3 separate regions of the Homo sapiens genome follow, and regions 1 and 2 are each linked to region 3. The links come from fine-mapping of genetic effects on gene expression. A gene starts in region 3. Each other region holds a variant in brackets. All regions are shown on one strand. Distances are between the middles of the regions.

The links. PIP is the estimated chance that this variant, and not a neighbour inherited with it, causes the effect.
Region 1: its variant is fine-mapped to the expression of SGSM1 in sun-exposed skin (GTEx, PIP above 0.99). The same link has a PIP of 0.9 or more in unexposed skin.
Region 2: its variant is fine-mapped to the expression of SGSM1 in thyroid (GTEx, PIP 0.97).

Annotation. Positions count from the first base shown.
Region 1 is chr22:24,772,186-24,780,364 of GRCh38, reverse strand. It overlaps PIWIL3 (piwi like RNA-mediated gene silencing 3), which reads left to right and starts at 5,645. Exons shown (of 21, transcript NM_001255975.1): 1 at 5,645-6,043. The variant C/T (reference allele first, on the strand shown) is at 4,345.
Region 2 is chr22:25,040,687-25,048,865 of GRCh38, reverse strand. It overlaps KIAA1671, which reads right to left. Exons shown (of 13, transcript NM_001145206.2): 5 at 7,341-8,179. Among named protein-coding and RNA genes, the nearest start is that of KIAA1671-AS1, 68 kb to the left of the region's middle. The variant A/G (reference allele first, on the strand shown) is at 4,441.
Region 3 is chr22:24,802,044-24,810,222 of GRCh38, reverse strand. It overlaps SGSM1 (small G protein signaling modulator 1), which reads right to left and starts at 4,012. Exons shown (of 25, transcript NM_001098497.3): 1 at 3,879-4,012; 2 at 3,739-3,782. The coding sequence starts at 3,897. RefSeq lists a silencer at 3,965-4,174.

The DNA.
Region 1 (8,179 bases), 30 kb after region 3:
CACCCGCCTCGGCCTCCCAAAGTGCTGGGATTACAGGCGTGAGCCACCACGCCTGGCCAAAATATGGCAACTTTGAAGTGAGCCATCTGTGTATCCATCTGGTTTTTCCCCCAAGAATACCAGAGGGAAGAGCCTCTAAGAACAGAAGTGCAGGTGCTAACCCAATCCTGTGGAGGCAGGTTGGGAGAGATGTATTTACTGTATGACCCAGCAATTTCACTTCAAGGTACTTAAGCAAGAGAAATCAAACTTATTTTCACACAAAAACCTGTATGTGAATATTTTAGCTGCTTTATTCATATCTCCTGGATATAGAGCTATTGAGGTTCCATAATTTTGGGGGGTGAGTTTGTAATTGTATTTAGTTGTTATGGGAATAACAGTATATTTACCAAACCTTTCACCTTCTAATTAGAGTTAATAATTTACCAATTCAAGTAAAATGTAGTCACCTAATGGCCACATGGATGCTGACACCCTTCACTCTTTGTTACAGTTGTCCTATGTGCCACATCTGCATATTTGAACGCTGCCCTCTGAGATGGTACTATAATTTTTGTTGTCACAAGTCTTACTTATAGTCAAGAATTTAAGGCCGGGCATGGAGGCTCATGTCTGTAATCTCAACACTTTGGGAGGCTGAGGCGGGCGGATCACTTGAGGTCAGGAGTTCGAGACTAGCCTGGCCAACATAGTGAAACCCTGTCTCTACCAAAAAAAAAAAAAAAAGCTACAAAGATTAGCTAGGTGTGGTGGCAGGCACCTGTAATCCCAGCTACTCAGGAGGCTGAGGCAGGAGAATTGCTTGAACCCAGGAGGCAGAGGTTGCAGTGAGCCCAGATCACACTACTGCACTCCAGTCTGGGTGACAAGAGTGAGACTCTGTCTCAAAAAAAAAAAAAAAAAAAATTAAGAGGAGAAAAATAGGGTATCACATTTACACATATATGTACCATTTCTCTTGCTCTTACTTTATTCCTGTAGTTCCAAGCTTCCTGCCTATCTAATTTCATTTCAGTCCGTTTGTACTTCTTTCACATAATGTTAGAGTAAGTTGTCCAGTGATGAAGTCTCTTAGTTTTATTCCCATCTCCATGTCATTCATTCTTTTTCTTTTTCCTTTTCCTCTTTCAATCTTTAAGGATATTTTTGCTGCATATGGTATCTTGGGTTGATAGTTCTCTTTTTCTTTTTTCTTTCTTTCTTTTTTTTTTTTTTGAGACAGAGTCTTGCTCTGTTGCCCAGGCTGGAGTGCAGTGGCGCGATCTCAGCTCACTGCAACTTCTGCCTCCCGGGTTCAAGTGATTCTCCTGCCTCAGTTTCCTGAGTAGCTGGGATTACAGGCACCCATCACCATGCCCAGCTAATTTTTGTATTTTTAGTAGAGACAGGGTTTCACCATGTTGGTCAGGCTGGTCTCAAACTCCTGACCTCATGATCCACCTGCCTCAGCCTCGCAAAGTGCTGAGATTACAGGCATGAGCCACCGTACCCGGCCAATGCTCTTTTTCAACATTTAAAAATGTGGTTCTGCTTTCTTCTGGCATCTTTCTGAGAAATCACAAGCATTCATATTGTAATTTCCTCGTGTATAACGTGTCATTTCCCCCCTCTGTTTTCTAGACTTTTTTCTTTAGTTTAGGTTGTTATAATCTAGCAGGGTGAGGGTTTTCTGAGCTTCTTGGATCTATGTTTCACAAGTTTGGGAGGTTTTCAGTCAATTTCCCCTCAATTTATTCTGCATCAAGTTCTTCTTTCAGGCACTCCAATGGGCAGAATGTTAGAAATTTTGATAGTAGGCCAGGCGCGGTGGGTCACGCCTGTAATCCCAGCACTTTGGGAGGCCGAGGCGGGCGGATCATGATGTCAGGAGATCGAGACCATTCTGGCTAACATGGTGAAACCCCGTCTCTACTAAAAATACAAAAAAAATTAGCCGGGCGTGGTGGCGGGCGCCTGCAGTCCCAGCTACTCGGTAGGCTGAGGCAGGAGAATGGGGTGAACCTGGGAGGCGGAGTTTCCAGTGAGCCAAGATGGCGCCACTGCATTCCAGATTGGGTGACAGAGCGAGACTCCGTCTCAAAAAAAAAAAAAAAGAAATTTTGATAGTGTCCCACACATCTCTGAGGTTCAGAGAATTACTCCTCAATCTTTATTTCTTTGTTCGTCATATTGTATCATTTCTATTTACATATCTTCAATTTCACTGATTTTTTTCTCCAGTCTATAATTGAGTTGAATCAGTACATTTTTCATTTTAGATGTTGCATATGCATTTAAGATTTCCATTTGCTTCTTTTTTATAATTTCTTCTCTTCTGATGAAGACTTGTAGCTTTCCATTAATTTTAAGAGTACTTAGGCCGGGCGCGGTGGCTCACCCCTGTAATCCCAGCACTTTGGGAGGCCGAGGCGGGCGGATCATAATGTAAGGAGATCGAGACCATCCTGGCTAACACGGTGAAAACCCGTCTCTACTAAAAACACAAAAAATTAGCTGGGCGTGGTGGCGGGCGCCTGTAGCTCCAGCTACTCAGGAGGCTGAGACAGGAGAATTGCTTGAACCCGGGAGGTGGAGCTTGCAGTGAGCTGAGATCACACCACTGCACTCCAGCCTGGGTGACAGAGCAAGACTCTGTCTTAAAAAAAAAAAGAGTACTACCTTTATTTTATTTTTTTGAGAATGGTTATAATAGATGTTTTCCCTCTAAATTTTAAATCTAATTATAACTTTAACTAGAATTAAATTTTAACCAAACTTCTGATTAAAGCATAAATTGTCCCTTCATGTGGGTCTTTCAAGGCCGGATTTTTGATTATCTTTTCCCTTGAGAGTTGGTCAGATTTGTCTTATGTTCTACCGCATAATTTTGGAGAGTATCCTGGACAGTTTGCTTATTATATTGTGAGATTCTGGTTCTTACTAAAATCTGCCAGAGAAATGTTCATTTTGTTGTTGTTATTGTTGTCGTATTGAGCATTCAACATAGTTTAGGTTAAACCACATATTCTGTCTTGTTTTCTTTTCTTTTTTTTTTTTTTTTTTTTTTGAGACGGAGTCTCACACTGTCACCTGGGCTGGAGTGCAATGGCTCAATCTCAGCTCACTGCAACCTCCACCTCCTGGGTTCAAGCGATTCACTTGCCTCAGCCTCCCAAGTAGCTGGGATTACAGGCGCCCGCCACCACGCCTGGCTAATTTTTTGTATTTTTAGTAGAGACGGGGTTTCACTATGTTGGCCAGGCTGGTCTTGAACTCCTGACCTCGTGATCTGCCCACCTTGGCCTCCCAAAGTGCTGGGATTACAGGTGTGAGCCACCGTGCCCAGCCCTGTCCTGTTTTCTTTGACAGTTGTTCCAGTCTCAGTGCAGTTTTCAAGCCTTTGCTATGCTGGTGTATCCACTTGGGTAAATCTGGGAGTTGAGTGGTGGTTTATATTATAGTTCGTTTCTCAAAACCCTTGCTCTGCTTCTGTGCATGCATAGTTCAGGGTGATCCTAGGACTTATGTTAATTCATACATCCATTTAAGTGATCCCCTTTAGCTTTCTCCTCTGCAGGATTCTGCAGGGTTCCGTTTTCATGCTCCTATCAGTGTTGCAGCACCCGTGCTGCTGTGCAGTTACACGCGTCTAGGTCAGCCTTTCAAGTGAAGTACAGGAAGAAACAAAAAGAGATTTCCCCTATACTTTTCAGATGCAGAAGTCTCTTTCCTTTTCCTCTGCCCAGTGAGCCAAGTGATTTCTCAGGGCTTTAGGTCCCTCTGCCATTGCTGAGGCTGCAGGACAGCTTTGCAACTGGGGAGATAAAAACAAAACAAACCAAGGATGATCCCCTTACTCCTTGATGTGCAGGAGACCCCTTTCCCACTAGCCTAGCTAGAAATTTAGGTGGTTTATCACAGACTTTTTACTTTCAGTGCCTGCTGGACAGTTCTATGACTCCACATGCCCTTGGGTAAACCAGAAGAAAGAGGAGGAAAATTAACTTACTATAGTCACCCCATTGAAAGGGCCTTTGCAAAACTCATAACTGAGAAAATTATGACAGTGAAACAGATCAGACCTAACCGACCACACCTTGCTTCTAACGCCTAAGCTGTCTTTGTTCATTCCTGGGCATAGGCCAAACTAGTCTTGGGGAAGAATTGTTTATAGTTTAAATTCTGAAACAAAACTGATAATAGTCCTTTCCTGAAAAAAAGACGCTTCTTGCGTGGGGAACTGTCCTGCCTTTGTAGGACTAACAAATTAGCTACAAGATGAGAGATTACGGCTTAGGGGCCATGCAGCTTCTGGCCGCAAGAGTCTGAACCTCCCCAAGTTGCTTCTGGGAATAAAATCTC[C/T]GTTGCAAAACTTAAGATCAGTGCTTGAGATATTTTGCATACCCTGAATTCCGATGCAGCAGATGACACCACCCAGACTGATAATCTGGCTCAACCAGTCCTGCGATCTCATCCAGGAAGAGAAATCAGCAAGAACTCACTTCCACCCCCATGATTCCATCTCCAACCCGACCAATAAGCACTCCCTACTTCCTGAGCCCATACCCACCAAATCATTTTTAAAAACTCTGATCCCCGACTGGGCATGGTGGCTCACGCCTGTAATCCCAAGGTGGGTGGATCACTTGAGGTCAGAAGTTTGAGATCAGCCTGGCCAATATCATGAAACCCCGTCTCTACTGAAAATACAAAAATTAGCCTGGTGTGGTGGCATGCACCTGTAATCCCAGCTACTCAGGAGGCTGAGTCAGGAGAATCGCCTGAACCCGGGAGGCGAAGGCTGCAGTGAGCAGAGATCACATCACTGCACTCTAGCCTGGACGACAGAACGAGACTCCATCTCAATAAATACATAGAGATATAAATAAAATAAAATAAAATAAAGTTTCTTAAAAAAAATAGGAAATCTCCTGAAAAACCTTTTCAGAAAAATAGCCACAGGTGCATGTTTGGCTCGTGTTTTTCCCAGAAACAACCTAAATCTGGCTTGATAAACCTTGATTGATGTATTTGCCCCAGTCACTCATGTTGTAACCAGCAAAAGGGCCCAGCTGCTCACTGCTTGTAGAAAGAAGTCAAAATGATAATGACATGTGATTTAAAAAGAAAGAATTTTATAATCTATGCTAGCAAGGGCAAGAGCAGAGAGCAATTCCACTCTTCCACGTGAGGAAAGAACGCAGGGGTTTTTTTTGTTTGTTTTTTGCGACGGTGTCTTGCTCTGTCGCCCAATCTGGCTGGAGTGCAGTGGCGCAATCTCAGCTCACTGCAACCTCCGCCTTCTGAGTTCAAGCGATTCTCCTGCCTCAGCCTCCCGAGTTGCTGGGACTACAGGCACATGCCACCATGCCCAGCTGATTTTTTGTATTTTTAGTAGAGACGGGGTTTCCCCGCGTTAGTCAGGATGGTCTCCATCTCCTGACCTCGTGATCCTCCGGCCTTGACCTCCCAAAGTGCTGCGATTACAGACGTGAGCCACTGCGCTCGGATGAACGCAGGGGTTTTTATTTATTTTATTTTATTTTTTAAGATATTTATTTATTTGTTTATTTTTTGAGACAGAGTCTCACTCTTTCACCCGGGCTGGAGTGCAGTGGCGTGATCTCGGCTCACTGCAAGCTCCGCCTCCCGGGTTCACGCCATTTTGCTGCCTCAGCCTCCCGAGTAGCTGGGACTACAGGTGCCCGCCACCACGCCCGGCTAATTTTTTGTATTTTTAGTAGAGATAGGGTTTCACTGTGTTAGCCAGGATGGTCTCCATCTCCTGACCTCATGATCTACCCGCCTCAGCCTGCCAAAGTGCTGGGATTACAGGCGTGAGCCACCGCGCCCGGCCAAAGCGGTTTTTAAAGGGAGGATTTGGAAGGCAAAAGAGGCAGGGGGACTGGGAGGTGTCAGGTGGTGTGACCCCCTCCAGTGGCTTGTCCTGAATTATTTTTCCATCTGTGGAAGTGGCCGGCGTCATCATGGCTGGAGGAGGTGCATGGTTCGTATCAGGATCTGACTACTGAAGCTTCTAAGGAAATATGTGACCAGATAAGTGAGTATGGTGTGTGCTTACCAAACAACTAGGTAAATAAATGTGCATAAGGCATGGGGGCATAGAACAGGAAAAGAAAGGGGGTGGAGGTTCACAGCACATTCCAAGGCTGGATTTCAAGAGGAGAGGAAACACGTCTATACTTTGTCTAAGTTACATCTTCAGATTAGCAGAAGAGAGGAAAGGGGAAAGGAAAAAAAGTTTTAAAATGCGGTTTGAGGTTAGGCTGCTAAGCTGCTGGGTTACAGATTCAGCTTATATTTGAGCATGTGGAGTATGTATATTTATTTTAAAAATCTAGAGCATCTTGGTCAGCCACAGTGGCTCATGCCTGTAATCCCAGCACTTTGGGAGGCTGAGGCGGCTGGACCATGAGGTCAGGAGTTCAAGACCAGCCTGGCCAAGATGGTGAAACCCCGTCTCTACGAAAAATACCAAAATTAACTGGGCGCAGTGGCGGGTGCCTGTAGTCCCAGCTACTTGGGAGGCTGAGGCAGGAGGATTGCTTGAACCTGGGAGGCGGAGGTTGCAGTGAGCCAAGATCGCACCACTGTACTCCAGCCTGGGCAACAGAGTGAGTGAGACTCCCATCTCAAAAAAAAAAAAAAAAAAAAAAAATCTAGAGTGTCTTGTACATATCCTTTAATAACCTACTTTTAAAAACTTAATATATTTTAGATACATATGTATATGTGTACCTACTTACATCCTTAAAACTGACGTGATGATAAATAAAACCGCGGAATTTCTATCAATATGTAAATGCTCTTCTCAGAAAAGGCGGGCTCTTTGCTCCTGTGGTTGATGGGGATGATGCAGATGGTGGCAGAGGCTTCCATTTTTTGAGCATTCGTTGTGGGACCTGCCAGTGCTTCAAGCTCAATACACCTTCTCCCATTTAACCCTCACAGCTCAGGAGGGGGTCCTGCCGGGACCTCCACTGCAGACAGGAAAAGAGGAGAAAGTTGGTATCTTCTGAATTCTTTTGGCAAAAGGAGAAGGGAAGAGGGTTCCTGTGCAGGGCATGCAGGAAGGCAGGAGTATGGAAAAGGGGGAAGGGACAGTGTGTAATGCCCTCCCTGCTGAGCCACATGGTTGGAATGGAGCATCACAGCAGAGATGGCAGAGCCAGAAACCCTAGGATCCGGTGTCAGAGGGACACAGGGCCCAGCTGCCAATGTGTGGCCCAGAGCAGTGGAGGACACCTTGGTTATGCCCTGGCACACAGCTTTCTACTGTCCTGGCATCTAAGCCCTGGGGACTGGGGCAGTGGGGTCAGTGCCCTCAGCTGGACACAGACACGTGGAGCAGAACTTGAAAAAGATGGGCCCCTGAGCCCATAGGACCCAGAGACCCAGCACCCAGGGAGGCCTGGGGAGGGAGAAGGACGCCCTCAGCTAGCACATGGGGGCTTGAGGTCCAGATAACTGTTAAGGTACCTCATCTGATCTCCCCACAGGGGACACCCGGCACATGCAGGCCTCCTTCCTGACTTCTCTGCCAACCTTTTCCCCAGCCTTAAAACTTTCTCTTCCCGATGTCATTGTGACACTTCTTCAGTTCTCCTTCTAGTCCACTAGATGCTGCTGTGCACCCACCTAAGCACCACCATTTCTAATTCCTGGGATCCTAGTTTGGGAAAGACAGGGGAGCTGGTCAGCCGTTCGGATTTCCCAGTGGGTAGAATGGAGACTGCAGCCTTTGCCAGGGCTCTTCTCCACTGTGGTAGTGATTTTAACTCCAGTAGCTGTAACTTGCTGAGCACTCAGCACCTGCTGAGCTCTTTGCACAGATTGGCTCCTGTAACCCCCACAGGCCCCTGTGACATAAGTTTTCAATACCCAACATACTAGGAAACAGGGTCTCAGAGAGATGATATCACCTGCTCAGGGTCACACAGCACATACCTGGACAGGCTATGATTCCACAAAGGTTTTTGTCTAAGTCCAAATGCCAGGGACATAATATTGTCCTGTTGCTCATAGAAGTTGCTATTTAATGAGCTCCTATTATGCAGACTTTATTCCTTCAATATAAGATTTACTTACATTGTGAAATATACAACTACTTAGTACTTAATACTTATATTGATAAGATTTACTTCTCTTTATTAATATGATTATCAAATCTAAGGGT
Region 2 (8,179 bases), 240 kb before region 3:
CACCTGGCTTGGCTTACCCTAGCCTCCTCCATCCCTGGCACCTGGGGAGCCCTCCATAAATGCTGGCTGGCCTCATTACTGCCAGTGGTCATTCTTGGTGACCTTATTTTAATCATCTCTTTATGCACCCAAACACACATGCATAGACACAGAGAAACGGTGCATGAACAGCACAGCACCTCCAGTACATCTACTTGGAATCCTGCTGTTTTTTTCCACTTAGTTATATATAGGGGAAACATTCACAGGCCAGGACTCCAGGATGCATATTTTATATGCTTCACACTCTCCCTGCGTGGACAAGGAAACAAAGGCCCAGAGATGGGAGGGAGCTGCTTAAGAACACACAGCACCAGGAAGAGGAAGACTGGATTTCTAATCCCTTCCCTCACAGCCTCTTTTCTGGATGCCTTCAGAGACCCTCTGGTTTTCCTCCTAACCCCCTGGCTCTTTTTGATCAGTGTCCCCACATGTCCCAGGCCAGCCGCAGAGCCATTTCTCCTTTTGCTACATCATTCCCTCTGGGATCTCTCTTCACGCCCCCCATGGCTTTAAATAAATCCCATCTACACCCAGATGCCTGCCAATTCTGTTTCTCAGTGTTGGAACTCCAGACTCGGAGATCCCACTGCTCACTCAACATCTCTTGGAAGCTCACACTCATCTCAGATCCACGTGCTCAAAACATGCGTCTTGATTCCATCTCTCCACAGTTGCTCCTCCCACACCTTGCCCATCCATCCCCCAGCTGGGGAGGCCAAGACCTTCGGGTTGCCCTCCATTCTCCTCCCCATTCTCTCCCACTTTTCTCCACTGCATCAGCAAAGCTGAGACTCTACCTGCAAAACATGCTGCAAATCTGACATACTATATACCAAAATCAACTTGAAATAGATCAAAGACCTAAATGTAAGAGCTAAAGCTAGAAAACTCTTAGAAGAAAATAGAGGTGTAAATCTTCAAGAGCTAGGCTTAGGCAGTGATTTCTTAAATATGATACCAAAGGCATAAACAACAAAAGAACAATAAATAAAATAGACTTCTTCAAAATTAAAAACTTTTGTGCTTTAAAGGGTACCATTAAGAAAGGGAAGGCCAGGCGCAGTAGCTCATGCCTGTAATCCCACCACTTCGGGAGGCCGACGCAGGTGGATCACCTGAGGTCAGGAGTTTGAGACCAGCCTCGCCAACATGGTGAAACCCCGTCTCTACTACAAATACGAAAATTAGCCAGGCATGGTGGCGAGCGCCTGTAATCCCAGCTACTTGGAAGGCTGAGGCAGGAGAATTGCTTGAACCCAGGAGGTGGAGATTGCAGTGAGCCGACATCACACCACTGCACTTCAGCCTGGGCAATAGAGTGAGACTCCATCCATCTCAAAAAAAAAAAAAAAAAAAGGAAAAGAGGCCAGGCATGGTGGTGGTGGCGGCTCACGCCTGTAATCCTAGCACTTTGGGAGGCCAAGGCAGGTTGATCACTTGAGGTCAGGAGTTCAAGACCAGCCTGGGCAACACGGTGAAACCCCATTTCTACTAAAAATATAAAAATCAGCTGGGCAAGGTGGCACATGCCTGTAATCCTTGCAACTCGGGAGGCTGAGGCAGGCGAATTGCTTGAATCCAGGAGGTGGAGGTTGCAGTGAGCCGAGATCATGCCACTGCACTCCAGCCTGGGCAACAGAGCAAGACTCTGTCTCAAAAAAAAAAAAAAAAAGAAAAGAAAAAAAATTAGCCAGGTGTGGTGGCATGTGCTTGTAGTCCCAGCTGCTTGGGAGGCTGAGGTGGGAGGACTGCTCGAGCCCAGGAGGTTGAGGCCGCAGTGAGCCATGATCTCACTACTACACTCCAGCCTGAGTGACAGAGTGAGACGCTGGCTCAAAAAAAAAAAAAAAAACTCTCAAGACACATTATATGAAAAACAGAAAGGTGGAAAATCTGTGGGTTCAACAGAGATCCTCAACCCAAGATTCCCCTGGGGAGCCTTCATAACTAACAAAGGCAGGTCCTACCCCAGAGATTCTGACCTAACTGGCCTGGAGAGAGGCCCAGTCATTGATATCTTTTAGGATTCCCTGTGTTACTCCCATAGGCAACCAAAGTTTCAACCACTTAGAGAAAGTGCTCTTTATTATGGAAAAGTGAAGCAAAAATAAAAATATGTATTTCTATGTGCTTGTATTTTCATAAAGAAGCCTCAAAAGAAAAAAAGGAATTTAAAAAAAAGGAATAAAAGTGATTACCGGGTGGAAGAAATGTAAGCATGGCAGGTATCAGGGGAATGTTTTTTAAGTATTTTTGGAGTGGAGCCATGTGAAATCGTCTCTCTCTTAAAACTAAAATAAATAATTTAAATAAATGAAATACTGTTGGGTCTGGGAAACAGTTTCTATAAATGTCTGTTAAGTGAAGAACAGAGAAAAAGAGAGGAAGGGATGGAGAGAGGAAGGGATGGAGAGAGGAAGGAATCACTTTAATGACCATCACACCCTTTTGGGCTGTAAATCAAGAAACCCTCACCCAAGGAACCAACCTTGTTTCTTTTTCTTCTTCTTTTTTTTTCTCTTGAGACAGAGTCTCGCTCTGTTGCCCAAGCTGGAGTGCAGTGGCACGATCTCCGCTCACTACAATCTCCGCTTCCTGGGTTCAAGCAATTCTCCTGCCTCAGCCTCCTAAGTAGCTGGGTCTACAGGCACCCGCCACCAAGCCCGGCTAATTTTTGTATTTTTAGTAGAGATGGAGTTTCACCATGTTGGCCAGGCTGGTCTCAAACTCCTGACCTCAAGTGATCTGCCAGCCTCGGCCTCCCAAAGTGTTGGGATTACAGATGTGAGCCACTGCACCCGGCACAACCCTGTTTCTAACACACACAAAAATTCAAATCCACCCAAATACCCATCAATGAGAGTCTAGGTTAAAATAGATTGGGCTCAGTCACATAATACAATACTTCGCAACCATTAAAAAGAGGAAGGGGAGGCCGGGTGCAGTGGCTCACGCCTGTAATTCTAGCAGTTTGGGAGGCCAAGACAGGTAGACTGCTTGAGGCCAGGAGTTCAAAACCAGCCTGGTTAACATGGTGAAACCCCATCTCTACTAAAAATACAAAAAATTAGCCAGGAATGGTGGTGTGCACCTGTAGTCCCAGCTACTCAGGAGGCTGAGGCAGGAGAATCACTTGAACCCGGGAGGCGGGGGTTGCAGTGAGCCAAGATCCTGCCACTGCACTCCAGCCTGGGCCACAAGAGCAAAACTCCATCTCAAAAAACAAAAGTAAGCCACAAGATTTTCTATAGACTGTTGTAGTTTTCCATAGAAAGCTTATGTATTTACCTATATCTAAGTCTATGCATTTACCTTTATCTATGTCTGTGTCTAGACCAGGGTTCCTCAACCTACAAACTGCAAACACTTGGGGCTGGAGCATTCTTTGCAGTGGGGGCTGTCTTGTGCCTTGTAGGATGTTGGGCAGCATGCTTGGCTTCTACCCATGAGACGCTAATAGCAACCTCTTCCCAGGGTGTGACAACAACAAAATATGTCTCCAGACACTGCCAAATGTGCCCCAGGGGCAAAATTGCCCATAGTTAAAAACCACTAATGGGCCTAGAGGGGTGTTCCCCAGTTTATGCACCACGCTCAATATTTAAAGGAGATTTTCTCTCTACACCATTTTTCTATAGTATTTCAAAATTTTTTTTTTTCTTTGAGACGGAGTCTCTCTCTGTCGCCCAGGCTGGAGTGCAGTGGCGTGATCTTGGCTCACTGAAAGCTCCGCCTCCCGGGTTCACGCCATTCTCCTGCCTCAGCCTCCGGAGTAGCTGGGACTACAGGCGCCCGCCACTGTGCCCGGCTAATTTTTTTGTAGTTTTAGTAGAGACAGGGTTTCACCGTGTTAGCCAGGATGGTCTCAATCTCCTGACCTCGTGATCCACCCGCCTCGGCCTCCCAAAGTGCTGGGATTACAGGCATGAGCCACCGTGCCCAGCCAGTATTTCACATTTTACGCAAGCATTCGCTACTGTTGCAATATGAAAAGCATGACAATTATGCATATATATATGATTGATAAGTGACTGTCAATATAGGAAAGTCCGAAAGGACATAAACAATGTAATGGTGGCTGCCTCTGGGGGAACACTCACCTTTTATTTTCTATACCCCTGTAAGGTTCAAAATTTTAACAACCAACATTTTTTCCTTCTGTATTGGTGTGTTTTTATTTTTTTTTTTAAGATCAAAGAACCAAAGATCTTTTGGCAGGAGACAAGAGAGAAACGGGAAGCTGGTCCAAGGCTTCCCAATCCCGTGGTGAGAAAACAGATCCCCTGACAACCAGCACTGCTGGGGCCTGCGTGCTCCAGGCAGGCATCCAAGGCTGGGCTGCGGGACAGAGCTGAGCCCAGGATCCCCCCTCCACAACATCCCGACTCCCCCACCACC[A/G]GCGGGCCCTGAGCAAGGTGCTGGCAAACATAAGTGTCGCATTTCCTTGGCCTCTTCCTTCTTCCACTGTTACCACAACATCAGCCTGCAGGTAGGGACAGATGAAACCCTTCTCAGGAAGCACACGGGGATGGCCCAAGTTCGGTGCTTTATTTCAATTCAGTCTAATAACAGTGCTTTGGGGCAGGAATCCCTGTTAACTCTGGCATGGCAACTGAGGCCAGGAGAGGCCAAGAGGCTGCTTTACACACAGCAGGCAAGTAGCAGCGTGGAGATTCAGATGCCAAGTCTGCGTGATCCTGCACATGGTGGTTGGAGAGCTTGGCCTCTTGGGAACAGACATGGGTTCAAAGCCTGACTCCATCACTTACCCACTCTTAACTGAAGGCAAATCCTCACCGCATGATCATTACTGACTGTATCCTAGAGTTTCCTTTCTGCAGCATCCACTTCCAGACTGGCCACCTAGTCCCTTTTACAGACAAGAAAACTCGGGTGCAGGGAGGTGAAAGGTTTTGCCCTGTATCACTCAGCTGCAAGTGGCAAAGGAAGAATCTGTGGCCTGATTTGCTGATGCCACATCACACAGGGCGGTGCTAAGTCCATTTCCACATGTCCCCCACAACATTCTACGCTCTTCCCACCTCCAAACCTTTGTCCATGCTGTGCCCTGCTGAGAATGCCCTCACCTCCCCTCATCAGCCCACCCAAAAGCATGGCCAACCCTCAAGCTTGGGCTGAGACCACCGACTCCTCCAGGACACCTTGGGCCACCTCTCCAGTGCCTCCCTCTGCACCCCATCACTCCCCAGTCTTGGATCACAATGGCCCATCTCCCCACAGAGATCAGAAGCTTCAAAGGGTGGTCCTTATGCCTCAGATTTCTTCCCCACCTTCGTGGTTCTTCACCAGAATGGTCTCCTAGAATATGGCCCAGTTGGGTAATTAAGGCCAGATTTGGGTTCAAATACCAGTTTTGTTACTTACTGCTGTGTGACCTGGGACAAGTTATTTCACCTCTCTGAGCCTCTGTTTTTTTCCCCCCATCTGTACAGGAAGATGATCACACAGCAGTAGGTAGTGTCAGCACTCTGCCCAACACTCAGGTATATGCCAAAGATCAAGAGAAGGGGCCCTCTGCCAACACCCTAGAGCCTCACTGATAGATATTTGGGTAGATTTGAATTTGTGTGTGTGTGTTAAAAACAAAGTGGCTTATTTGGGTGAGGGTTTCTTCACAGCTATTCTGCTTATGTACCCCCAAAAGGGTGTGCTTGTAATTAAAGTGATCCCTTCCTCCTTTCCTCCCCACCCCCCACCCTGCCATCCATTCTTCTCTTTCTCTCTGTTCTTCACTGAACAAAGGAAGCCAGATTTTCTTTCTTCTGCTGTGCATGGTGCCAGCCAGGATGGAAAAGTCTGAATGTTCATGACCCCACAAACAGCCTCAGGCAAGGACAGAGGGATTGGAAAATACATACTCCAGGTCCCTTGACCCCTGGACATGACAACTTCAGAGGTGTTCCATGCTGCCTCCCGGGGTCCCCAGTGAGATGTGCCTCTGTGGCCAACCATGGCCCCTGTAGCACCTGCCTCACTTCTTCTCTCCCCTACTGGTTCTTCCTGGGATCACCCCCTTAAAAAGTGCTTACAGGCCGGGCGCAGTGGCTCGCGCCTGTAATCCCAGCACTTTGGGAGGTCAAGGTGGGCGGATCACGAGGTCAGGAGTTCAAGACCGGCCTGGCCAAAATAGTGAAACCCCGTCTCTACTAAAAAAAAAAAATACAAAAAATTAGCCGGGTATGATGGCGGGCTCCTGTAATCCCAGCTACTTGGGAGGCTGAGGCAGGAGAATCGCTTAAACCCAGGAGGCGAAGGTTGCAGTGAGCCAAGATCACACCATTGTATTCCAGCCCAGGTGACAGTGTGAGACTCCGTCTCAAAAAAAAAAAAAAAAAAAAACAAGGGACTGCTGGAACCCAAAACCATGGTGATCCCTCTTTTGAGGCTCACGTAAGATCACTTGTTCACTCATTCAACAAATACTTCTTGAACATTCACAGTATGTCAAGCATGATGCTGGATTCTGGGGACATAATAATGAACAGGATACAACAGGCTATTATACAGCAGGAGCACAATAAAGCTACCATTGATATCTATCATTATCGTCATTGTAGGACAGAAGTGTAAAACAGGTGGCCGGCGCGCTGCATGGGGCTAGCAGACAAGTCTTGTTTGGGCTGAACAGCATTTTTAAAAATAAGTCCTCCTCATTTCCTAATGGGAGGATTACACATAAAAATCTAGATTTTCAGATTCTCTTGATAAATGAGGTTTGCCATCTCAAGGCCAGCATTCCTGCCTGTGAAGAACCAGCTGGGCCAGGCATGGTGGCACACGCCTGTCATCCCAGCACTTTGGGAGGCCGAGGCAGGAGGATCACTTGAGCCCAGGAGTTTGAGACCAGCCTGGGCAACATGGCAAAACCCTGTCTCTACAAAAAATAAAAAATTAGCCAAGCATGGTGGCGCATGCCTGTCATCCCAGCTATTTGGGAGGCTGAGGCGGGAGGATGGCTTGAGCCCAGGAGATTATGGCTGCAGTGAGCCATGATCATGCCACTGCACTCCAGCCTGGGCAACTAAGCAAGACTCTTTGTTTCAAACAAACAAATAAACAAACAAAGAACCAGGTGGGACCAAGCAGCAGTTGTCCAGTTCAGATAGGGCATGAGCTCTCCATTTGCCACAATCCATACCCCTCCCTGGAGCCTCATACCCAGCCTGACTCCACTCATTTATGTACCCAAAGTGGGCCACACAAAATCTGAGTTTCGGCCCCCTAGACTAGATGTTTAAACCATGTTTGACAAAATTAAAAAGTGTCTCGGTACTTACCTTGTGACTGTCTCCAGTCCCTGACTCCCACCAACAGGGTCCCATTTTGGCCTCCAAATTCTCTCCAGTAAGGCTGGGCCTCCCTTTGGGCTGCTCTCGCCTCCTCTCTCTGGCTTCATGCATGATGGACAGGCCCTCTCGGATGTTGGCAGGGGGCCCCTTCTCTGAGTAGGCCCTCTTGATATCCAGCGGCACCCGTCCACAGTCACGTGGGTGGTCACCCCACTGGGCCACACTGTCCTCCTCTCCCCGCCCGGTGGATTTCCTTGGGGTCCCTTTCTTCTGGTCAGTGGGGGGCGATTTGGGTGACACCCTGACCCCACTGCCTGGATCCTCCCGACCAGAGGGCTTTGACTCAGCCAGGTAATTCTGACACTTTGCAACATGATGTTTACTGGCAAAGGCCTTTCTGTCATCCTCAGCAAACCCCGTTTTTTTCCTGGGATCCGCAGGTATAGGAGAGCCCCCTGGATACCTTTCAGAAGGAGCCGAGGGTGGCAGAGCCCAGAAGGGAGGGCTAGATTTGGTGCCCATGGCTGTCTCCAAGGTCTCTGCCAGCTGCTTGCCTAAGCCAGGAGTGAAACTGTGATTTATTTCGGCAGAACTGGCCGGTTTCCAGAGACCCCCGGTATCGGGCATCTCCTTCAGGCTCCTCCTTCTCTGCTCCACCCCGCCCAGCTGAACAGGCCTCTCCCGAGGCAACGTACTGGGCTCCACGGTGGGACTCCTCCTCTCCTGAGCCTCCCCAGGGACTTTCAGCGACAGCTCCTGGTACTCTGCCATCAGGGCGTCAATGTCAAGAACGCTGGATCTGTAGCCATCTCTGATTTTACCTGGGA
Region 3 (8,179 bases):
GTAAAGACAGATCTTGTCTAAGATTGTGCAGTGAACAGGCCAGCAATTTCAGCTCCATCACCTTCTTTCCCTGTTCTCGATGTCCTCCCCATTCCTTTCCCTTGCTTTTGGGATAAGACCACATGTTCCGCCTTCTCCGCATCTGCACCTTTCTCCTTTGTCTCTGCTCCGGTCACTTCGGTTCCTTCAAATTCACAGTGTTCCCTCCAGCCACAAAGCTTCTGCATGTACAAAACCTTCTGCCAGGAATGGTTTTTCTTAGTGTCTCTCAACCCTCTTATCTTCACCTTAAAGTCCTACTCATCTTGCACCTGTCTTCTGAAACGTCATATCCTGGGCCCCTGCACATGGTCAGTTGTCCCTGTTTTGGGTTCTTGCAGCCCCGGGTGCCTCTCCTTCACATCTCTGTTCACAGCCTGTAATTATCCTTGTAATTTTGATAAGGTAACTGTTGGGAGTGTGTTTCCTCCGCTGCAAGGTCAGCCCCAGGAGGACAGGGACAGGGCCCATCTACAAGGGGCCTGTCCCTGCTATATCCACAGAACCTAGCCCAGGGTCTGACACACAGCCCTCAGTAAATAAACACATCTGGGGTTGGAATCCAGCTCTAGTTGAGCCCAAAGTTCTTCTTGACCTGCCTCATGGGTGCTGTGTCCAGCTGGCTCCCCAGGCCAGCACTGGACAGTTTCCAGCTCCCAGCCTCTGTTGGCCCCTTCGTGGCTGCAGTGGCTCTGGCAAACCTTGCAGAGCTGCCCAGCCTATCTAGAGATGTCGATTGTTAAGGCACTCCTTCTAGAAAGAAGGCTGGGGAAACAGATGTACACACAGAAGACAGATATACACACAGACACATGTAGATATGTGTACATACAATGCAGTCTCTGGGTGAGGCTGTGACAGGCAGAGATGTGGCTCCTTTGAACCCAGAGAGTGGGGAGGAGGGAGATCTGATTTGACTCTCAGATTTCTAGGCAAAGAGCTTTCCCTTCTGTTCCACTAGAGACTGGCTCTCTGACACTGAGAGAGATGCTCCCCAAAGAGGTAAGCAAAGGAAGGAAAGGACAGGGGAGACGTGCTTTGGGGGGCACCGAGTTGTTGCCATGTTCTTAGGGTACCTATGTTGAATAGGAACTCAAAAGACAGAAGAACGGAACCTGTTCCCTCACACTGGTTCTGTGCCCTTGAAATGTCACTTATTGTCTCTGGGCCACAGTGTTCTCATCTGTACAGTAGAAACTGTACTGCCCACACATTCTGTCCAAGGTGTGGCACCGTGTAGATTTGGATGAGCATGTTTGTGGGATGGGAGGGTCAGAGTGTGGCTCTGACATCAAAAAGACCTGGGGGGTAAGTCCCAACTCTGTCCCATCTTGGCTGTGTGCTCTTGGGCAAGTTATTCCCCCTCTTTGAGCCCAAGACCCAAACTAGACTGACACGGGTCAGACCTTAGAGGACACTGATACTAATGCATCCTTCTGCAGATGGAGAAACTGACTCCTAGAGAGAAGAAGGAACCTGCGCAGGAAACTGAGGAAGATGGTAGCTGAGCTGGGACCTGGGCCTCAGCCAGAGCCTTCCCCAGATGTCTTACTGGTGTTCTCTTCTGCCTGCAGCCCCCTCCCCATTCAACCAACCATTGCCTTAAAAACAAAGCTACCCCAGGCAAAAACATCTCAGGGACACATATTACACGTAGGTCTGGTTAAACCACGAACAAAAAGACAGCAGGTGCTTTGTAAGGTACATGCCCCTCCACTGAAAGTGACAAGGATGTTGTTGGTCTGTGAGTTCTATTGAAAAGAGGTTCTAGGCTGGGAGCAGTGGCTCACGCCTGTAATTCCAGCACTTTGGGAGGCCGAGGCAGGCGATCACGAGGTCAGGAGATCGAGACCATCCTGGCTAACGTGGTGAAACCCCGTCTCTACTAAAAATAAAAAAATAAAAAATTAGCCGGACATGGTGGCTCCTGTAGTCTCAGCTACTTGGGAGGCTGAGGCAGGAGAATGGCGTGAACCCAGGAGGTGGAGTTTTTAGTGAGTGGAGACTGTGCCACTGTACTCTATCCTGGGCAACAGAGCGAGACTCCGTCTCAAAAAAAAAAAAAAAACACCAAGAAAAAAAAAAGATAAGAGGTTCTAGATGGATCTCCCTTGGAATACCCACAGGAGTCTATACAAGGGCTGAGCTGAAAACTTCTGGGCCTTTCTGAGGGATCCAATGTATTTTGCATGTCTCATTCGAAAATGCTAGAATGTGCAAGCAGCCCTGGAGCTCATTCTTTAAACAAAATAGGACATGCCACACACAGAGACACACACACACACACACACACACGCAGGCACATACTCATGCTCCCGGAGGACGGAGGAGCAGCAACAGGTCCAAGCCTCGAGGCTGCCCTTGGTGGCTGTCTGCCACTGTGCAGGGAAGGAGGGGTCATCAGTGATGCTTGATGCTGCCACCTCAGCCAACACCCCCAACACATACACACACATGCACGCATGTACACACACACACACTGAAAGCCAGGCCCAGAAACCAGGCCAGCCCACGATGTCTGCTGCCATGCAAGGCCTTGGGCTAAGCGCTGATAAGGTTCAAAAGTGATGAAGACACAGCAGCAATGGGGTCTGAGACTGAAGAATGGGGAGGGCAACACACAAGACACACGCACACAGACGGAGTCACAGCCCTAGTTATTCATGCAGACTCATGCATCACATGCCACACACCTACTCAAGATACACACACACACTCACAGCATCACTCATTCACAGACTCATGCACCACACAATATACACACACAGACCCACCCTCACAAAAACAGATACAAAGACACACATAGATACGTGTACACACAGTGCAAAGAGATACACTTAGGTATCTCCAGACAGATGCACAGACATTCTCATACGCACACACTCACAGCCACAGGTCCTCACCCATGCAGGTATACACACCAGAGCACGCAGTCCAGGCATCGAGATGCTACCCCAAGGACTATAAATTCTGTCTATGGGGTTCTGGGAGGTCATTGGCCATGAGCCCTAAAGACTAGACTGCCCCCCTCTCCACGCGCTGACCCCAAGGAGAGTGGAGGGGCAGAGGAATGGCAGAACCTCTCTGATTCTCACCCTCTGAATGTGGGGTGGGAGTGGGGCGGGGGGAGTGAAGGGACCCCTACTGCCAGGGGAGCAGCTCACTGACCCGTGACTCTCAGGGAGGGAGTCCCCTGGCTCTTGGAGGTGGCTCCAAGGACTGAGAATTCGGGGGCTGGGAAGGGAGGTTTTATTTTCCTTCTGCCTTTTCCTGAAGCGTGCCCCACCTTCGGCAGCCCCATTCAGAGCCCCTCCTCCAGCACACCCTGTGGGGGGCGTCCCCCTAGCAGCTTCTCTCTCTTGGAAGGTCCCCTTCCTGAGCCGCGCCCACCTGCTCCTCCACAAGAGGAGGTCCTATCGGGATACATCCAGGTGTGCCCCACACCTGGAGGGCCCTCACGCTACATCCGCCCCCGCAAAAAGCCTCAAATGGGCCAAAGCCTCCCCACACCTACGCCCACCCCCAAACTCCCTCGCTGCGCCTCCTGCCCTGCGGGAGGTCAATGCCCACCCAGGTGAGCCCCACACCTGTTCTGGCCGCCCCCCCGCCGCCAGAGGCCACCCTTCCACGAAGACTCTTTTCCCGTTTGGCCGCTGCTGCCGGGGGAGTCCTGCCCAGTGCCCCCACCCCGGCACCCACCTCCTTCTTGACGGTGCGTAGCAGCCTCTGTCGGGTCTCCGCCTCTGTGGGACAAGAAACGAGAGCCGCGGGTCAGCCGAGAGAGGGTGCGGGGGCCGGGCGCTGCCCTCCCGCCGCCCTCGTGTCCAGCGGCCTCTTACCCGCGGGGGCCGAGGCCATGGCTCCGAGCGCTGCGTTCCGAGTCCCAGGAGGCGGTGGCGGCGGTGGCGGCGGTAGCTCCTCCGGCCGCGGCGCTGCTGCTGCAGCCGCGGCGGGGCGGGGCCGAGCGCTGAGTGACGGCCGGAGGGCGCCCGACGTCAGGACCCGAGGCGGCCGCCCCACCCCTCCGGAAAGCCACCGCTCGGCGGGGCAGCCGGGTCGCCTGCGCCAGGAGCCTTCGCGCCAAGCACGCACGCTCCCTCCCGCGCACCCAGCGCCCGAGCCTCTCAGGCTCCCCCAACCTCCACGCCAGCGCCCGCGTCCCTCCCTCTTCCCTAGGGCGGGGAAGGAAAGCGTCCGTCCTGAACCCTCCTCTGTGGGCCAGGCTCCAGGAAGTCACAGGAAATGGTGGGGCTACTACCGATATTCTCCAAGCCTCAGTTTTCTCATCTTTAAAATGGGTATAATGTGGTATAAAATGGGCATAATGGGTCTCAGAACGATCTGAGCCTTAAGTGAGATATTGGATGTGAAGCCCTTAATACAGACCCAGGGGGAAAGGCCAGCGAGCATAAATGCTTGCCACTGTTACTGTTATTATTATTAATTATTATTATTGAGGGTCTTCCAGCCGGTCGCGGTGGCTCACGCCTGTAATCCCAACACTTTGGGAGGCCGAGGCGGGCAGATCACTTGAGGTCAGGAGTTCGAGACCAGCCTGGCCAACATAGTGAAACCCCGTCTCTACGAAAATACAAAAATTAGCCGGACATGATGGCGAGCTGCCTGTAATCCCAGCTACTGGGGAGGCTAAGGCAGGAGAATCTCTTGAACCCGGGAAGCAGAGGTTACAGTGATCCAACATGGCGCCATTGCACTCCAGCCTGAGCGACAGAGTGAGACTCCGTCTCAAAAAATAAAAAAAATACAAATACAAAAATTAGCCAGGCATGGTGGCGTGCTCCTGTAATCCCAGCTACTCAGGAGGCTGAGGCATGAGAATTGCTTGAACCCTGGAGGCAGAGGTGTCAGTGAGCCAAGATTGTGCCACCACACTCCAGCCTGGGCAACAAAAGTGAAACTCCATCTCAAAAAAAAAAAAAAAAAAAAGAGTCTTCCAAGATACACTGGTTATCCATTCAGGAGAGGCCGGGACTTAAGTGGCTCCCTCCCCGACATGCAGGTCACTGGAGGAGTGGGGTTTTCCCAGGAGTCTGGCCCCAAAAGGAGGCACTTGTCAGCCAGGATCTCTGGGGCTGAGCAAGCAGTGGGCTCTGTGGGAAAAGCCTTGTTCCATCAAGAGCCCCTGGTCACCCCAAGTCCCTAACTGTATCCACCCAGAATGCAACTCAGGTCAATATTTATTGAGCACCTACTCTGTGCCAAGTGACTGTGCTAGAGATTTCTAAGTGAGCAAGACAGACAATGAACTCTGCCCTCATGGAGTTTAGGAGGCGGACAACAAAATATGTAAGAAAAGGACAGACCATGCTGGAAAGTTCTGGAGAAAAATTAAGTAGGCAAGGGGGACAGGGAGGGCCCAGACCCCTGGGGATCGTATTCTGAAGTAGGGTGGTTGAGGGAGGCCCCACTGAGCAGGTGACATTTAAGCAAAGAGGAAAAGGAGTAGGCCATGGGGATTTCTGGAGGAAGAGCAGTTGAGTCAAGGGAACAGCAAATGCAAAGTCCCTGAGGAGGGAGTGTGTCCAGTCAAACAGTGACAAATAGCACAGATGCCTGTGGGGCTGGAGTGGTGTGAACAATGGGGACGGTGGTGGGATGTTGGCCAGAGAGGTGCAGGGCCAAAACCCTGTATGACTTTGATGGTGATGTTAAGGATTTGCAATGCCTTTTAGGGTCCCCCAGTATTCAGGCCTTCCTTCAGAAGGACTAGAGGGCAGCTTAGAGTGCCTCTCCGTGCAGCAGTGGATCCAGAGCCCCCTTTTTTCCATTGGTCAGTGTCAGGGGTCTCTGGCCGTAAGCCACAGAAGCTGACTTTGGCTTCCTCAGGCAAAAGGAAATAAACTGGGAAGATAATATGTGATCCCAGAGCCCATGGGAGCCTGGAGAACTGGGAAATGGGATGAAATCAAGGTGGCTCTGGAAGGCCAGAAAGGGGAATCTTGGGAATATTTGCCTGGCAAGGACAGTGTGGTTAGGGCACTGCTGCTCTGGTAAAGAGAATGCCATTCGTTTAAGGTTTTCATCCTATGGAGGGAGTGCCTGATTGTCCTGACCTGGGACACAAGCCTGCCCATTGGCTTGGGGAGAGGTGTCTCAATCACAAACCCCTGCTCCACAATCTCCAGCAAGTCCCCCAGGAGAATGGGAAATGGTTGCTTGGCAGCAAAAATAATCATATATTGCGCACCTACTATGTGGCAGGCACTGCGCTAAGGGCTTTGGGTTTTGCTCACATGATCTTATTGACCCTCCTTCCACCCCACGCTAACCCTATGAGCCTTATGTCATTGACAAAGCCAAGCCTGGAGGGGGTTTCATCCCTGTTTGTTTAACAAGTGTGTGGCCGCCAGGATTCTGACCTGAGGACCAAAGTGATTGATCCATTAGTTCCTCTCCTTGGCTTCACCCCTAAGTTAACTGGGGTACTTTAGGAAGGTGGTAGGGTGCCTAAGCCTCACTCTAGGGAATCATTTTTCAAAACCCACATTTTTCCTTTTCCTGCCAAGCACAAAGTCTGGGAAGTTGACCTGTGCTGGTCCTTGAAAACCTGGAGCTTTTCCTCCAAGATAAAGGACTCCATGGTGTTTGGTGCAGTTGCAACTGGCAGGAGGGCATGGTTGACCTGCATGCAACTCAGGTCAACAGATATTTATGAACACCTACTGTGTGCCAGGTGACTGTGCTAGATACTTCTAAGTGAACGAGACAGGCAAAAAGCTCTGCCCTCGTGGAGCTTAGGAAGCAGACAATAAAATAAGCAAATAATAGAGTATGTTGGAAAGTTCTGGAGGAAAACAAAGTAGGCAGGGGAGACAGGGAGGGCCCAGACAGATGGGGATTTTATTATGAAACAGAGTGGTTGAGGGAGGCCCCACTGAGCAGGTGACATTGGAACCCTGAATTCCATGGGACCAGGGATTGCACCCTGCTGCAGTTGGAACACTCACCACTAGGGGCACCATCACCTAAGATCAGCTTGGGAAGAGTTGCACTCTCCCTGTGGCCAGAATAGGAAAATTTACCTGGGTCCCAAAGCCTCCCCCAGTGTCTGAGAATCCCATTACCTGGCCTATGACACCTCACACCCTTAGCGCTGACCAGTGGTGCAGCAGCTGGAACCAGTTAAGAGAAGCCTCTTTCTCCAGCAATGTTTCTTCAGCGCCCTCAGCTGGGAAAGGTCAGCTCTGTGATCAGCGTAAATGAAAAATGCTAAGAAAGTCCAGGCTAGGCCGGACGCGGTGGCTCACACCTGTAATCCCAGCACTTTGGGAGGCCGAGGCGGGTGGATCGCCTGAGGTCAGGAGTTCGAGACCAGCCTGGCCAACACAGGCGTGGTGGTTCACACCTGTAATCCCAGCACTTTGGGAGGCCGAGGCAGGCGGATCATGAGGTCAGGAGTTCGAGACCAGTCTGGCCAACATAGTGAAACCCTGTCTCTACTAAAAATACAAAAAAAAATTAGCCGGGCCTGGTGGTGTGTGCCTGTAATCCCAGCTACTCGAGAGGCTGAGGCAGGAGAATTGTGTGAACCCGGGAGGCAGAGGTTGCAGTGAGCCAAGCTTGCACCACTGCACTCCAGTCTGGGCAAAAGAACTAGACTCCGTCTCAAAAAAAAAAAAAGAGAGAAAAAAAAAACAGCTTAACCAAGACATGCAGCTGGAAAGTAAGAGAGGCTAGATTCAGGCCGAGGCACTCTTGAGCCTCTTACTATACAGAGAAATCTTGATTAATGTTGTGTTGCATGCCCTATGCAGCAGATACTCCTTGTTGCTGCGATGGTGAATTTTATCTGTCAACTTGCTTGGACCAGGGGTGCTCAAACATTTGCTCAAAGGTTATTCTGGGCGTGACTGTGAGGGTGTTTGTAGATAAGATTAATGTTTGAATCCATCGACTGAGTAAAGCAGATTGCTGTCTCTGATGTAGGTAAGCCTCATTCAATCAATTGAAGATCTGAATGGAACAAAAAAAGGCAGAACAAGAGGAAACTCCTCCTGCCTGACTGTTTGAGCTGCGACATCTTTTCCCACCTTCTGACTCAAATTGAAACCTCTGCTCTTCCTGGGCCTCGGGCCTTCGGACTCAGACTAAAACTGCACTATCAGCCCTCCTGGGCCTC